Linked DNA regions of Homo sapiens. Changing the gene in region 3 together with the main gene of any one other region gives a genetic interaction. Each region holds a gene or a part of one and is shown on either strand. Other genes may lie near its edges.

What was found. A genetic interaction does not mean that the proteins touch.
Region 1: changes in GATB (region 3) and LARS2 together harm fitness less than expected from each alone (positive genetic interaction), as found in Homo sapiens cells (one large-scale study listed by BioGRID).
Region 2: changes in GATB (region 3) and FH together harm fitness less than expected from each alone (positive genetic interaction), as found in Homo sapiens cells (one large-scale study listed by BioGRID).
Region 4: changes in GATB (region 3) and TFB1M together harm fitness less than expected from each alone (positive genetic interaction), as found in Homo sapiens cells (one large-scale study listed by BioGRID).

What each region holds. Positions count from the first base shown.
Region 1 is NC_000003.12:45,395,076-45,398,575, reverse strand, and holds part of LARS2 (leucine--tRNA ligase, mitochondrial), read right to left. Parts: intron 1-3,500.
Region 2 is NC_000001.11:241,506,256-241,509,755, reverse strand, and holds part of FH (fumarate hydratase, mitochondrial), read left to right. Parts: intron 1-970; coding exon 971-1,153; intron 1,154-3,500. UniProt on the Homo sapiens protein: Catalyzes the reversible stereospecific interconversion of fumarate to L-malate. Experiments in other species have demonstrated that specific isoforms of this protein act in defined pathways and favor one direction over the other.
Region 3 is NC_000004.12:151,718,538-151,724,115, forward strand, and holds part of GATB (glutamyl-tRNA(Gln) amidotransferase subunit B, mitochondrial isoform 1 precursor), read right to left. Parts: intron 1,002-5,578; coding exon 888-1,001; intron 1-887. UniProt on the Homo sapiens protein: Allows the formation of correctly charged Gln-tRNA(Gln) through the transamidation of misacylated Glu-tRNA(Gln) in the mitochondria. The reaction takes place in the presence of glutamine and ATP through an activated gamma-phospho-Glu-tRNA(Gln).
Region 4 is NC_000006.12:155,286,985-155,290,484, forward strand, and holds part of TFB1M (dimethyladenosine transferase 1, mitochondrial), read right to left. Parts: intron 1-3,500. UniProt on the Homo sapiens protein: Mitochondrial methyltransferase which uses S-adenosyl methionine to dimethylate two highly conserved adjacent adenosine residues (A1583 and A1584) within the loop of helix 45 at the 3-prime end of 12S rRNA, thereby regulating the assembly or stability of the small subunit of the mitochondrial ribosome.

The sequences.
Region 1 (3,500 bases), on a different chromosome or scaffold from region 3:
TCTGTTTCGTCACTAAGGGTCAGAACTTCTGCTTTTATTTATTTCTGCCTTCTGTTTTTTCTTCCTGGCCTTATTCCCTTGCTAGAACTTTACTCCAGTTCTTTAAGAATTTGCTTCCCCTGAAGTAATGCAAACAAACACGAAACAGAATATTCATAACCCTTCTTTTATGTACATATGTGGGATGGGGTTTTTAAATATTGTTTGCTGAATGTTCGCATGACTGATAATACACATAAACCAAATATAATCAGTAGAGCAGAAGAAACCAGAAATCAGATTCTTGCCAAGGAGTTCGTAAACTTCTTTCAGCAAAGAAGTTAAACAAACCTTTAACGGAACCATTAGCACGTGGCAAAAAGAAACCCACAAAAACTAGAGTAGAACTTTTCTTTGTGCTGCCCATCCTCTAGAAATTACCAAGGAGTGTTAAGCTGCCTGAAGGAAGAGATGGGAAAAAGAGAACAATTAAGAAATCTGGATCATACACAAATTAGAAAATCATCTGGAACTGCTGAAATGACAACTACAATGGATTTATACAAACAGGATGGAAAGCAACACATTGGTCAGACACTTTAATTAGAAACTGCAGATTTATAACTCTTAGGAAAACCACAGAAATCTGAGAGAGGACCTGAGATTCAGGGGTTGGTGGGAACTCAGGAACTTAATAACTGTCCTTAAGAAAGTGAGTGGCAGATAACCTTCTCAGCTTATGAGCAAGTCGTCCAAGGAGGTACAAGACCCCATTCTTTTACTTAGTGCAGAATCAGAAGAAAACTATCCACTCAATTCATGCCTTACTCCTTACAATGAATTAGGCTTATGGCTTATTCTTCAGAAATTTTTAGGAATATGGGAAAATAGCTGTTAAGAGTTCTTTGGGAGCTAGGAAAACAGTAAAATCCTTGATCTAAGCTGTTTCTAGTTTTTCATTTGAAAGTTTTTACATAAAATTATTTTTATTATACTAATGTTTGTTATGTATTTAATTTACCAATCTTGCCCCAAACATTTTCCACCTGTAATTTCTTTACTAGCATCTCTTGTTTTACATTTGTTCAATAAAGATTAAATTAATAGCAAAATCAAATGAATAATTATATACTAGCTAAGCCAAAATCCAAATCTGAGTTCATAAAAGATACATAGAAAAGTATTGTTTTCTAAAGTCTTTAATATTCATGAAGATTTCTGTTTATTACAGAAAAGGTATTCAGCTTATTGCCTGTCCCTGCCTTTTGCTTTTCTGCATGAATTAAGTCATTTTCCTCTGTGACAATGAAATGAGTTCTATCATCTGGGGGTGGAAAAGAGAGAAGGAATGATGGGAGTTTCTGTTATAATTGAGCAAGAATCTGATTGAAAGGGAAATTTTCATAATTATATAAAAGTATAAGAATTTAAGCCTTTAAAAGAGATTAAGATTTAAATGATAGGGAAAGGATGGCTTTTATAAGTGGGTCCTATTATTTTTGTCAGCTTCTGACTTTAGAAGAAAGATGACTTCTGCCTCTTTATAGATCACGCTCTGAAGCTGTGGCTGAGCCTAGAGGGTGACAGAGTAAAAGGAGCACCTCAATAGGAATCCGGAGCCCCAGTTCTGGTCCTAGCTTTGTCACTAGCTGTGAGGCCTTGGGCAAATTCTTTTGCCTTCTGGGATCAGTTTGCTAACTGTAAATCAAAGGTGAGACAAAAGAAGGTTTCTGTGTGGAAAAGCATGAGCTCAGGAATCAAACACACATTTGATTTTGAATCCTGGCTCTGCCATGTCTTGGCAAATTACCTAAACCTTTTTCTGAGCCTCAGTTTTCTTACTCCAAAAATGAGGATAATAATACCTACCCGCTGGGTTGTTTCAGGATTAAATGAGATAATCAATTGAAAGACAGTGCCTGGCACATGGTTAAATGCTCATTAAATGCAAATTATTTTTTAAATGATAAATATGGTGATTTCAAGACATTCCATTTCAAAAAACTTATGTGAGTGGATTTCAAGTGAATCTGATACCAGAGTGAGATCGATTATAAATGCTTCAAAATCCATGAGCATTCCGTCATAGTCTCAGGTCCTGATAGACACACCACGTTCTGATCTTTGTGTATCTTTTATTTATGTACCACTTCAGTTTGTAAAATGCATTTTGTCACACATTTTCTCATTTGATTTTCAAAACAATTCTGTGAGATAAACAATGCAAGGAGCCCAGAATCCAAAACATTAAATGATGTGGCCTGGATCACACAGGTTTCCTGGGGCAGAGCCAGCATTGCAGCCCAGGCTCTGGCTCACTCACTGAGTGCTCACTCTGCTTTGCCATTCCTTGATTCAAACCCTGATAGGGGGCTGCCAGGGGATCACACACAATGCCCCTTATGCTATCTCCCCAATTGCTAAAACAATTTATTTTGATCCATTTGATATTTTAAAAAACTGTATGCTTAAGAAGAATGAGATGTCACAAAATCAGTAAGCTACAACATCAAAACATTTGGAAGTCAATAAATGATTATCTAAACCAAAAGGGAAAAAAAAGCTAATTTTACTGTCCTCACTCAGAATTAAACTGCTCCTTAAGAGTTTGTTTTCAAAATCTATTAAGTTACATTAGTCTGATGATGTTGACACAAGGGCTTTTCACTTCCTAACAAGGTAGAAGTCAAGCTTTCATTGTAAAATTATGTATTACATTCAAACCTTCCCTTTTTTTCATTTCATTTTACTTGTTACACACTACATCTTTTTCAATAGCAATTTTTCTTTCTAACCATTGCCCAAAATCATCTTTCAGTTTAACACAAATAGCTCTCCTCCCCTTACTCATTTTTCATAACCACCAATCTCACAGAAAGAATGAATGTGTTGACCGAATCAGGAGATGGGGAAAAGGCAAGTCTAGAGAGGTGTGGTCTTGTGCAGCTGTACTTATTCAGCTGCTTGCCTTGGGCCTAATCTCTTTATTAAACATAGAGGGTTTGTATTATTTGACTATAACTACTACAAAGAGATGATCAGAATTTAAAACTCCAATCAGATTCAAACATTTCATGTAACAATCACATCTCCCAGCTGTCATTTTGACCAGTATCAAGAGGTAAGGGTTAACACGTTCCAGACTGATTCCCAGCAAGCTGGCCTCCCAGAAAAGGAACAGAGAGCACTCTGTGGAAACTGGCTGCAGCCAAGTATTATGCTTCCACCATTAATTCAGGTAGAGTGCCGAGCTGGTGTACCTGGTGCAGAAGCCAAGGGTCCACTAACTCATGTAGCTGCTACCTCAAGGTTAGACCCTACCCCAGTTCACAACAGTGAAAGGGCTGGTGTGCCCCAAACCATGATGCTAAGGCAGCAGAACAGAGTTGGAGGCTACGATTGCCAGGGAAGGGGCAGTTACTTCTCAGAACATGTAGCCAGCGAGGAGCCCAGGTGCCTCTCCTGGAGTCTCAGATATGACCCTGCCAGATCCCTGTGTGCTGCCCCACCATGCAATGGAC
Region 2 (3,500 bases), on a different chromosome or scaffold from region 3:
CACCCAGGCTGGAGTGCAGTAGAGTGAGCATAGCTCACTGCAGCCTGGAAATGCTGAGCTCCAGGGATCCTCATGCCTTAGCTTCCTGAGCAAGTGGGACCATAGGCATGCACCGCCATGCCTGGCTAACTTTAAAAATGTTTTCAGAGACAGGGTATTGCTCTGTGTTGCCCAGGCTGGTCTTAAACTCCTGGCCTCAATTGATCCTCCTGCCTCAGCCTCTGAAAGTGCTGAGGTTATAGGCATGAGCCACTGCACCCAGCTTGATATTATGTTTTAAAAGTACAGGGTCAACAGTTGAGGAAAGAGCACTGAGTATATACTACCTGGCTAGGTCTCAGGTTTGCCAGTTGCTAAATATTTTGGCATTTATACAGTCTCTTTGAGGGCTTGGCTTTCCTATTTTTAAAGTGGTAATCTACCTCACAGAATTTTTCTAAACTTAATAAAGAGCTGTTTATGAAAGACTGTATGCACTGTATAATTGTAAGATATTCAATTATAAGATTTTATAAGAATATATAATTCAATAATTGATGTAATTTGATATAATTATAAGATATTCAACTACATTGAAGATACTACTGCTGTCTTCAAGTGCAGTTGTTAACTATACTTCTCTGTATTTTGCTGTCATTTATTAGCAGGCAGATATAATACGTAATACATAATATAATACATAATATATTATATAATACATAATATAATATAATACGTAATACATATATAATACATAATACATTCAGTATACTTAATGTGTATAATACAGTTCTGAGTATGTGTTAGAAACCAGGATGCTGCTTATTTGATTCTATAATAACTCACCTATGACATGCCACACATACATGTAACTGAGCTGGGTTTTGAGTAGTTAGTTGGAGAGTTTTTTAATTGAGAAGTTTAATTCAGAAGTTTGTTTTTGTTGCCTCTGATTTAACATTTTATATTTCTTTTGAAAAATTTCCAACAGAGCTCAAATGATACTTTTCCCACAGCAATGCACATTGCTGCTGCAATAGAAGTTCATGAAGTACTGTTACCAGGACTACAGAAGTTACATGATGCTCTTGATGCAAAATCCAAAGAGTTTGCACAGATCATCAAGATTGGACGTACTCATACTCAGGATGCTGTTCCACTTACTCTTGGGCAGGTATAGGAGTTTGACTAATTTGATTCAATTTAGAGCTTGGTACAAATGGCCAATGTGTCATCCTTGAAATCTGACTAGCTTAAAAGGCCAAATTTGTAACCGGAAACTTCAGTGACAGAGGTTGTTCTGTTCAACCAATCAGTAATTTTCATTGACATCCACTTAGAAGAAAAGCAGAGTATACTGGCTATAAGTCAGATTCAGTCAGACTGCTCGGGTTCAAATCTTAGCTTTGCTGTGTACAAGCTATGGGACCATAGGAAAGTCATTTAGCCTTTCTGTGCCTCAGTTTTCTGAGCTACAAAATGAGGAAAATAATTTCCCTTTCATAGGATAGTTGTGAAGCTCTAGTAAGTTGATTTATGTAGAGTGCTTAGAAGCATGCCTGGCACACAGTAAGTACCCATTCATGTTAGCTACCATCATCACCACCGTCATCGCTGTCATCTCCATCAGTATCATCATGGTTTTTCTTTTGTCTTTCTTACCTAAATTAGTAGGTTATTTAAAATTTAATCTCAAAGTGATTAAATAAGGTAGATCTTTTTAAGATGGATCTGGCCGCATGTGAAGGAGATACTACTCTCTTCTCCAAGATATTAGAAAGTATTTTCATGTTTCTTTTTCAATGCCTTAAGGAATATCTAATAGTATACATTGTGAAGGAAATGTAAGGAAATACAGGGAATGACTTTTGTCTTAGTAAACTCACACTCCAATTGGGGTAGCTTAATTTCCTTATGGAAGGAATGAGGAAAACTTGAAATGAGTAATTGAAAAACAAATGATGGGACTAAATTGAACTCACTGGATTGAGTTGCTTCTTAAGGCTGTGTCTCATTTCTCTTTGCATCATTAGTACTTAGGACCATGCATAATTTCTAAGGAGGAACAGTATGTATGTTTTGAAACTTTTGAATATTTCTCAAGTTTCTAATTTTAACCTTTTTTTGGTGTTGAAAACTACAATACTAAATACCATTTGGGCCATGACTCAGCCTCCTGTGTAAAATCATCATTCTTCCTGTTAAGACAGAAAATTACATTTTTCTGTTTGACTTTATCAGAAGCATTTATACTTGCTTTTATTGGGATTGTCTTTTGAGTTCGTGCATTGTTCCCTGTCAAAGTGTATTTTATAAGTGAATCTATCTAGTGTGTTTGTGTGTGTGTGTATACATACAGTCATGTGTTGCTTAGCAATGGGGGTATGTTCTGAAAAATGCATCCTTAGGCAATTTCATAGTTATGTGAACATCACAGAGTATACTCACACAAACCTAGATGGTATAGCCTTCTATACACCTAGGCTATATGGCATAGCCTTTTCCTCCTAGGCTACAAATCTGTGCAGCATGTTACTGCATTGGATACAATAGGCAATCGTAACACAATGGTAAGTATTTGTGTATCTAAACATATCTAAATGTAGAAAAGGTACAGTAAAAATACGGTTTTATAATCTTAGGGTCCCACTGTTTATGTGATCTTTCGTTGGCTGAAACATCATTATGTGGTGCGTGACTGTATATGAGTGATGTTATATCAGATGCATCAGGTCTACCTATAATGAGTTATATCTTTTGAAATGTTTTCTTTAGAACAGTATGGCATCCTGTCACTTATGGTTTTTTAGTGTTTTCAGGCAGGAAAAAAGGATAGATTTAGTGTAACCATGTATCTTGGTTTGTCCAGTTAACTCCCAGTGTATGCCTTTTGTTTCTGCATGACTATTAATAGAGCCCTTTCTGTGTTCAAAACATAAATTCTGTGGTTGCTTTAATTAAGGCATGTCAAAATTTGGAACCAGTGTTGACATTGGCACATTGATGCTATGATCTGACTCTACCGTTACCTCCTATTCTTTTTGGAAGGTCCTTCAATGCAAACTGTTACCTTCCTGTGCTATTCAGTGAGTCATTAGCTTCCCAAGTCTCTGTAGAATGTCTTCATATTTCCTGGTAGGTTTATACACTGAAATTGTATGGAGAATATTTCTATGTTTGCATTTTTTTGGGGGAGATGAGTTACTATTTTTTCTTACACCAAAGTTGTCTGAGGCATCCCAAAAAATAAGAAATCACTTCAGTTTCTTTAGTAGACTGCAAGTAAACCAATAATTTAGTGTAGTAAAGTTGTTCTTTTTAAAGTGTATTTCCTGTGCTGTTTTTCTTTGCTTCCTATTAAAAGACTAGATTATAATAAATAGGCTGCATGTTATCAGTGGCATTGTCGTACCTTATGGTTCTATAAACCCTCATCCTTCCCTATACTTTGCTCATCATAAGATTTGAAGTAGTATAAATAAAACTTGATTAGCTTGTAATTTAGTATTCTGAAAGGTATT
Region 3 (5,578 bases):
ACAGTAGACTTGCTGAGAGGCTGGAGGCCAGAGGGGAAAAGCAGCAGCCACTGGAGAACGCAGGTCTTACTTGTATTTTTTATTTAATTCTACTCGTGCCCTCACCCACTAAAAAACAGCTCGCCCCAATCTTCAGTTCAAGGAGAAAGAGGTGAAGCAACATCATCACTGTTGTTTTTCTGAATCAGACCAAACAAAACATTATTTTGGGAAACCCATTCAACATTTCAGTTTTGTTCCTGTTCAATAGTATGAAAAATTGGCTCTCACTCACATGGTGTGGCTTAAAGAAAAAAACCTTTTAATTTTCAGAAAAAAGCGGGTCAATATGGAGTTTACTGCTCAGCCAAGTAACTGGACCAACAGTTTACTGTTCTTGGTCCAGATTTCTGGTTCATGTTTCCGCTTACTATTGTCCACTTACTTGCTCCTTGTGAGATGACAGAAATGTCTCCAAAGGAGACAGCCCTATTATTGGGAACTTCAACTTAAAAGCGATTCGCTCTCGCTCTGCTGACAGAACTACAGTATGCATTTACTGTTGCATCAGCCAGAGCCTTAGCTTTTGTACTAACAGGCAATTAGCACCAAATACCACGGCCAGGCTGAGCCTGCAAACACTGGCTTCTACTCCCTGTGCAATTATGAGCGAGCCACCAGAAGCATGAGGTAAGCAAGAAGTCAGCAATCAGGACAACTGCATCCGATCTAGTAACCATCAGGGGCACCTGCCTGCATCAGGGCTGGGCCGAACTTCCTGCTGGGATGGACACAGTGCTGGCTGAAAACATGAGAGGCACAGCCCCTTTCCCTTGCTCCGACCCCCCACAGCAGGGCTGGCCCAGCTCTGAGAACTTGCAGTGGGGTGGATCACAAAGTGTACTTACAGGGAGGTCTGCATAGAAGTAGTGCTTCCTGTCAAACAAGGACTTCTTGTTTATGTGGCAGTTCAGAGCCAGGCCTGTCATCACCGCCGCTTCTACACACCTCCTGTTGAGAACCTATGGGAACACAACACACAGTTCCTCTCAGAACCGCAGGCTGAACAAATGCTTCTCCCACACACTGACATCCTCGCTGAATATGCAACTTGGCCCTTCAACAGGCATTATCTCTGGTTCTCTGGGTGGGCAGCTCCAGTTCACAAGCCGAGTCTGTTTGCCTGGGAATCAGGGAAGGATATAAAGAAGAAAATGTATGCAGCAGTGGGTCCCACCGGGCACTTAAGGAACTGCCACATCGGGAACCCTTTCCCCCAGTGCCCGGCATCAAAGCTAACAGGAAGAGTCGCAGAAAAGCTTAGCGGAGTGGTTACTACATAGAATAAATCTAATCTCACTCCCTCTACAAACAGAATAAGGGGCCGGTCAGAATACACAAGAGGCACTGATTGCTGAGAGGAGTCCTGAGGAAGGGTGGCTTCACTTTGACAGAAAAAGAATGAACTTCTGAAAACGACAGGGCCGTAGCCATTTTCTCAAGGGCTAGGAAATGTGGCACAGCTGTTGCCTGGCTTTCTGTCCATGCCAGGCCAACTCCCTAAAAGTGGAACGCCAACGGAGGGCCTGTCCCACACACTGGACGACTCCGTGCTGCTGGTCTCTCTGGGGGCACCTGGTGCTCCAGTTCCCTCTGGGTGCCACCCTGTCCCACTTACAGGAGTGAATGACCAAGAAATGGCTGGCACACTTCCCAGCACCAAAGAATGTCAAAGCTTTTAAGAACACTGGGGGTCTGGAACTAGACAACGAGATAATGTAGCCAAGGAGAAGGAGCATTAAGTTCTCGAGTCAGGTTCAAATCCCACTTCTGCTGTGACTAGGAGTCTCAGTTTCCTTGTGTCTAAAAGTGGGATTTAAGATCTACTTTGCAGAACAGATAAAGTGATAGCTGGAACACCTCCCCTAAGGTAGAGATTCAATAAATAGTTCATTTCCCTACTCTACTTTGGGACAATTTTGGAGGATGTCATGTTTGCAGATGAAATATATTTCTATTTTTGTTAGGATATTTATGATGTTCTTTAGTATATTTAATATACTATTATTGATATAGATAGGGCCTTCTAGTTGAGCATTTCCACATCCACCATTTTATTTCAGCCTCACAGCAACGCTGTAAAATAAGGAATCTGCATTATTCCAATATTTCAGATTAAAAAAACAAAACTAAGACCCAAAGAGTCTAAAACATTTGCCCAAATTCACAGAACTGGCAAGTGGTAAAGCTGCCTGTAAAGCCCACACATGCCGTGGCTGAGAGGCGGCAAACAGAACTTCTGTGGTTCAGGGACTGGCTCTTTAGGCTGGGATGACGAGTGTAGACCAAACACAGATTTTAAAAACAAATTTCTACAACAAAATGGAAGGGGCATTTCTATTTACTGCAATATACGGTCCCCAAAGAAAACCCAAACAAGGGCCAGGCGTGGTGGCTCATGCCTGTAATCCCAGCACTTTGGGAAGCCAAGGCGGGTATATCACGAGGTCAGGAGATCGAGACCATCCTGGCTAACACAGTGAAACCCCGTCTCTACTAAAAATACAAAAAATTAGCTAGGTGTGATGGCAGGCACCTGTAGTCCCAGTTACTTGGGAGGCTGAGGCAGGAGAATCACTTGAACCCGGGAGGTGGAGGTTGCAGTGAGCCGAGATCTCGCCACTGCACTCCAGCCTGGGCGACAGAGCGAGACTCCATCTCAAAAAAAAGGAAAAAGAAAAGAAAAAAAGAAAACCTAAACAAATCTCCCGCCTAGTGACAACATCACACCCTTATTTTTCAGGACTCAGGTTATAAGATGGAGCCATTTCACAGTTTCTATTTGGAGTTCTTCATTCTGTGCCTAATAATGTCAGCTCTGCAGCAATAAAGGTTTTCAAGAAAAGATGTGTGGGGAACAGGAGGCTCTAATTATTGATGTTTTCACTTGCCTAATGTCTGGCATTTTACTGAGCGGTTGTTACTGAGATACAAACATAGCTGGTGGAGAATCCCGCCAAATCCAAGCCTGATGATTCGGGTCCAGGCACACAGAACATGAAGCTGCAGTCCCGACCCTGGGCTTTGCTCTTCCTGGGGTCAGAATGCAGTCAGCCAGGGCTGGCTCGTAAACTGCCTGACTCCTGGTCTGCACCAGTTCTGCCTCATCATTCCCTCTGCTTTCCTAACCACTGCTTTCGCTCTCATTTCAAGCTTCTTTGCCCCTGGGACCAAGCTGCTTCCTCCTGCTAGGCATGAAGAGAACCCAGGTTATTTTGTTTGTTTATTTTCAAGCACGCACCATAGCCTCCCTGTGGGAGAAGAGTTGAGGACCATCACAGACTCTCACTGTGTCCGTGTGCACACAAGCGCACGGGCACTTCATAAACCACCACTTTCCAGAGAAGAAGGCAGTAAAACACACAAACATTACAGTGATACTGAGAATATGCTTTAATCTTTTTTTGATGATTTAGAAGCCATGAAGTACTTCAAGGTCAGAATTATAAGCATCAGTCATCACACGTTACAGATGCACAGAGGGCCCAGTAAACAGAGAGTGTCAGTTAGAAGAATGCCAAGAAAAAAAGGAATTTCCTAGGATCTTAGTCAAGCTGCTTGTGACAGATGGAAGTCCAGGTCAGCATGTTCTGAGGATAGGATACAGAATGGGAAAATTCAACTTGGGCTGTCTTCACTCTGAAAAAAAAAATTCTTAAATGTCTATAAAGCACTAAACTTTAGGGGTACATAGATAAATAGGACTCTGTCTCTGCCCTCAATGAATCCGCAGTGGTGACATGAACCTGCCAGCATCTGCAAACCCTTTTCAAGTTTGTCTTTCATACTAGGGTGATCCTGCTAAAATTGTGGATCTGTGGCATTCTGTTACCTGAAGTCCCTCAATGGCCCCTGATGTTCCCACGACAAAGGCCAAGCTCTTACATGATCAAACTCCTGCCTACATCTTCAATTTCATCTACCACCATGTCCCCCCACAACACCTCTGCTGTAGTTCCTCTGTGCAAACCGTGCTGATCTTCTGATTCTCCCCATTCTTATTCCCTTCAAAATCCTAGTGGGACGTCACCACTTCTGTGAAGCCTTCCTTGTTGTCCTTTCTGTGTACCTCTTCTGACCTTCTACACACTCCCATTGGGGCTTCCATCACAGTGGATTGAATTTGTTCACATGTAGTTCCACACAATTGCACATTTCATGAGGACGGGAATTGTCTGTTCACCCTTGTATCCCTGGAGCCTAATACAGAACCTGAAAAATTGTGGTATTTGATTAATGTGTGCTGAGCTCAAAGGAGGAGGGAGGGGATGATATCAATGGACGATTTCAGAGAGGCAGTGATGCCCCAGTCTCCTCTAAGGTGTTACCTGCCACATGCTGGCCTGCAAACTTGTTTCTGGAAGTGCCCTGAAGTGACAACTGATTGTGTGTGATACGATCAAGATGTAATTTAAAAACTAAAAAGACTAACTTGGCTTGAAGAAAGTATGTTCCAGAATTTCTCTGTAATTAAATGACTACAAAGGATCTCAGGGTTAGCCATAGCAGCTCTCGTTTGGAAAGAAGGCAGTAATTTTTGGTACTCACGCAGCACACCTTTCTCAGCTGAGCCTTCAGAGGCTTCTTTTTGGCTTCAGGAAGGGTCAGCAGCGAGTATTTATTGTGCACTGACACTGTGTCAGGAGGTGTGCTGCACATCACACACACATGCCATTGAATCCTCTCATTCCTAGGGTAAATACTATTATGATCCTCATCTTACAATGAAGGGAAGCATAGAGATGACACAGTTTGGTCAGGGTGACACATGGAAGTGGCAGAGCCAGGAAGTCAGATCCCAGAATCCAGGCTCTCAACCACTATATTCAATCTGAAATCTTACAAGAAAAAAGCATGTTAGTTTTAGCTATCAAGACTACTAACAGCAGGCCATAACTCCAGAGCAGCACCTCAACCCAAATCCTACTGTACATCATTTAAGGCAGATGCTATTTCTAATGTGTTTCTTCTTGCCAGTTTCTCCCTCTTTAGATTTGTTTCCAGATGTTGAACTCTCAGAGGGCAAGCATTGTGTTCTTTTAACTACATGAAAGAATTGAGTGTTCTTTCAGTGCAGTCTCTGGCATGTGGAGTGCTTGGTGATGGGTGACCCTACATGTTTTCTCAACGAGCAGAGGATGTTCTATTGCTAGACTTCAGAAACCCTTAGACACAGGCACCCATACAATGATTTATCAAATAAGAGGCTAATTCTTCTATTTAATCAGAAGATGAGAAAGCTGTGATGGGTAGAGGTAGGAGATGAGATAAATACACAGTGGGTGGCCAACAAATTTTATGACTAGTAGAGAGAGATAAGGCACATAATGGCCAGGAAAAAGATCTTGGGGTGGTGGGTGGTGGGAGTAGCAAATGATTTTTAATAAAGAATTGCTTGTCTGGCTTATTGTAAGACCTGAGTAGTGCTGCAATCATAATTGTTTGAAACCTAAGATACATCTAGCTCATAAGGCAGCATAAACAACTCAGAGTTTGCATGAGACCTCTAAGGGGACACAGCGACCCCAATTTGAGAAAC
Region 4 (3,500 bases), on a different chromosome or scaffold from region 3:
GAATATATAAGGCAACTCACATAAGAGAAATCCAAATAAACCATAATATAAACTATGCTCCACCACAGTACAAAGTAGGAATATGCAAATTAGAACATTACATATAATTTCATACACATGAAATGAACAATTAAAAAAAAAACCTAACAGAACCTGATATTGGAGGATATCTGCAGCTATAGGAACTTTCAGATACTGCTAGTGAGAGAGGAAATCTGTACAAGCATTTGTAGCATAATTTGGCAATATACAGTAGAGCTGAAGCTGTGTAAAACCTCATGACCCTCTAGGTCTCTAAGAACATATCCTAGAGCACAGCGTACATACATACTTACACGGGCGATAGGTATAAAAATGTTCATTATGGTATTATGTGTAATGTCAAGAAATGAAAAAAATAATAAAAATCAACATGTGAACGAAAAAATAAACTGTGATAATTCTGATAATGGAATACGAGATTGAATCCCAAAATGGAATAAAAAATAATCAAGTCACAGAAAATTTGTACAGTATAATGCTATTTGTATAAAATCTTGAAAAGACTACTCCTATCATTTACTCTGAGTGTGTGTGTGTGTGTGTGTGTGTATGTGTGTGTGGTGTATTTATCTGCAATGTAAGGATAAAATATGTATGGAAATAATGATGACGAAAGTTTAAGATAGTACAACTCATAGAAGGGAAAGAAAGGGGATAGAAGAGGGCTCCAAACATATCAACAATATTTTATTTCTTTAAAAAAGATATAAAAATATGGCAATATATTAAAATTGAACAGAGCTGAGTGGTGGGTAAAAAAATTTAGGGATGCTTATCTTTCTAAAATGTATCTTGCCTCTCTGTGTTCTTAAGAGCTCAAAGGACATTCTAACCCTCTTCTGAATGATTCAGGGGCAACATTACAAACACCAATGATTACTGGAATAATCCTGGGGCTAGGTAGGCAGGCAGGGGGCCCCACTGCTCAACAGTAAAAGACACAGTGCTTTCTGAGCTGGTTTGCAGCTGCTGGGTTTGCTCTTTCCCGCTTCACTGCAATGCACACACATAGTCTAATCACTTCTTTTCCTTTGCTGCTTGTAGCCTGCCGTGGATGAAAACCATATAATTTACCTTATTAGAGCTTTGCCTTAAGGAAGATTAAAAAATAGGTTCTGTGTGAGATATGGAAGAAACTTCCTATGGGCAAAGTTATAGATTGTACTCAAAGCCAACCTTTCATCTCATACCTCTTCCCCATGACCTTTTTATTTTAAACTGTCTGGCTCTTGTCTGTTTGGAGAGTTGAAATTATTGGGATGCCGTACTCAAGATAAGTGATGAGTTACTATAGCATGTAAGACAAAATATAATCTTTCTTACTAAAATGTAAAACCAAGACACATATACTCTCATACAGCTACAAAAAATGACAGAAGTAGAGATTTAAGTTAAAGAATAAGCTTATGGATCAAGTGGTCAAAAATATTTCTAGTTCTTCATAAAGTAAAAAAGGAGCTTAATCTTACTACTGGCAGAAAATTCAAAAATTCAAAATGCATTGCAAATTTTAATATCCAACTGGCACAATTCAAAAAAGATCTTATTTAAGTATTTAAGTATATTTCACTTAGAACACATCCAGAAACGTCAGGGGAATATGTGTCCCAATCCATTAACCTGACCCATTCAATTCAATCTTTGTAGCATATATCCCCAGGCTGTAGAGATGAAAACATGCGAATCATATATTTCAATTTAGAAAAAAGCAGCACACATAGCTGTCCCTAACTCATTAAGGAAAAATTCAAATCACAGACCAGAAAGCTCTACAAAAGATTTCATTCAAAGCTAGCATAAAACTGAAATGTTCTATCAACCTCAAATATACATTACTGTTTCTGTGATAGATGTACTATTGGGAAAGCTATAAAAATTCAACATCCATTACAAGATAGATGATTTTAGCAACAAAAGGTCAGGAAACCAAACTAGTTAATTTTTCTTTAAAAGGAAACCTCTAACCCTTGAGCTTTTAAAAAGCATTTTGATGGAGTATGAGAAAAACAAGGGGTCAAAGAATTTACAAGGACAGTGGTTTTTTTTTTCTTATTAATCTAAAATAATTTTAAGTACAAGGAGAAAAATTAGGCTTACACTTGAGAAGCTACACAGCCATATATCAGGGACAATGAGAACTATGTAAGGTAATTAATGGAGAGGGTGACTCCCTCCCTGCTTGGGATGTGCTCATCAACAGCCAGGGTCCTCTGGAGATGGTGGGAGAAAAAGAGGCTGATGCTGGACCCAGAAAGAAAAGAACACAGGGCCAGCAGCATCGAGAACTTGCACATCATGACTTTAGCAGAAAACACACTACCTGTACTCAAGTTCAGCCTTCCCTGTAACTACTCCATGACCTTCTGGAAGGCATTAAACCTTTTGAGCCTCAGTTCATCATTTATATTAATAAAATGAGGTTAGATGGGATTAGTTCTCACTTACTGCTTAACAGTCTGATTATATTTTATGAACTGTAACTTCATATTGTCTATATGTCCCTTAATGCATATGAGCTGAATTCTTACACTTAGATCCTGTAGTGCTAGAGACAGGAATAAGACGACGGTGCTCATTTATTTCTGTTTTGTAATTAACAAAGCCAATCAAAGTAAATGTTAAAAAGAGCTTCCTGTGGCTAAAATACAAAATTACATATACAGCCATGTCAAGAGTAAATGGCATATAAGAAAATGCTGCTATATGAAATGGTGCGAATTACTGTCCCTGCCCAAATCTCGCCAAATTGTAATCCCCAATGTTGGAGGAGGGGCCTGGTGAAAGGTGATTGGATCAAGGGGGCAGATTTCCCTCTTGCACGACAGTGAGTGAGTTCTCATGAGAACTGCTTGTTGTAAAGTGTGTAGCACCTCCCCACTCTCTTCCTACTGCTCCAGCCACATAAACCATGCCTGCTTCCCCTTTGCCTTCTGCCATGATTATAAGTTTCCTGAGGCTTCCCCAGCCATGCTTCCTGTAGAGTTGCAGAAATGTGAGCCAATTAAACCTTTTTTTTAAAATAAATTACCCAGTCTCAGGTATCTCTTTATAGCAGTGCATAGAATGGACTAACATAGGGGCTGGGCGTGGTGGCTCACGCCTGTAATCCCAGCACTTTAGGAGGCTGAGGCGTGTGGATCACGAGGTCAGGAGATCGAGACCATCCTGGCTAACATGGTGAAACCCCGTCTCTACTAAAAATGCAAAAAATTAGCCAGGCGTGGTGGTGGGCGCCTGTAGTCCCAGCTACTTGGGAGGCTGAGGCAGTTGAATGGCATGAACCCGGGAGGCGGGGCTTGCAGCGAGCCGAGATGGCACCACTGCACTCCAGCCTGGGTGACAGAGCGGCGAGACTCGGCCTCAAAAAAAAAAAAAAAAAAAAAAGAAAAGAATGGACTAATATAGTATATATATATTCTCCCACTGAAACTTTCACTTGCAAAATGTGAAAATCAGAG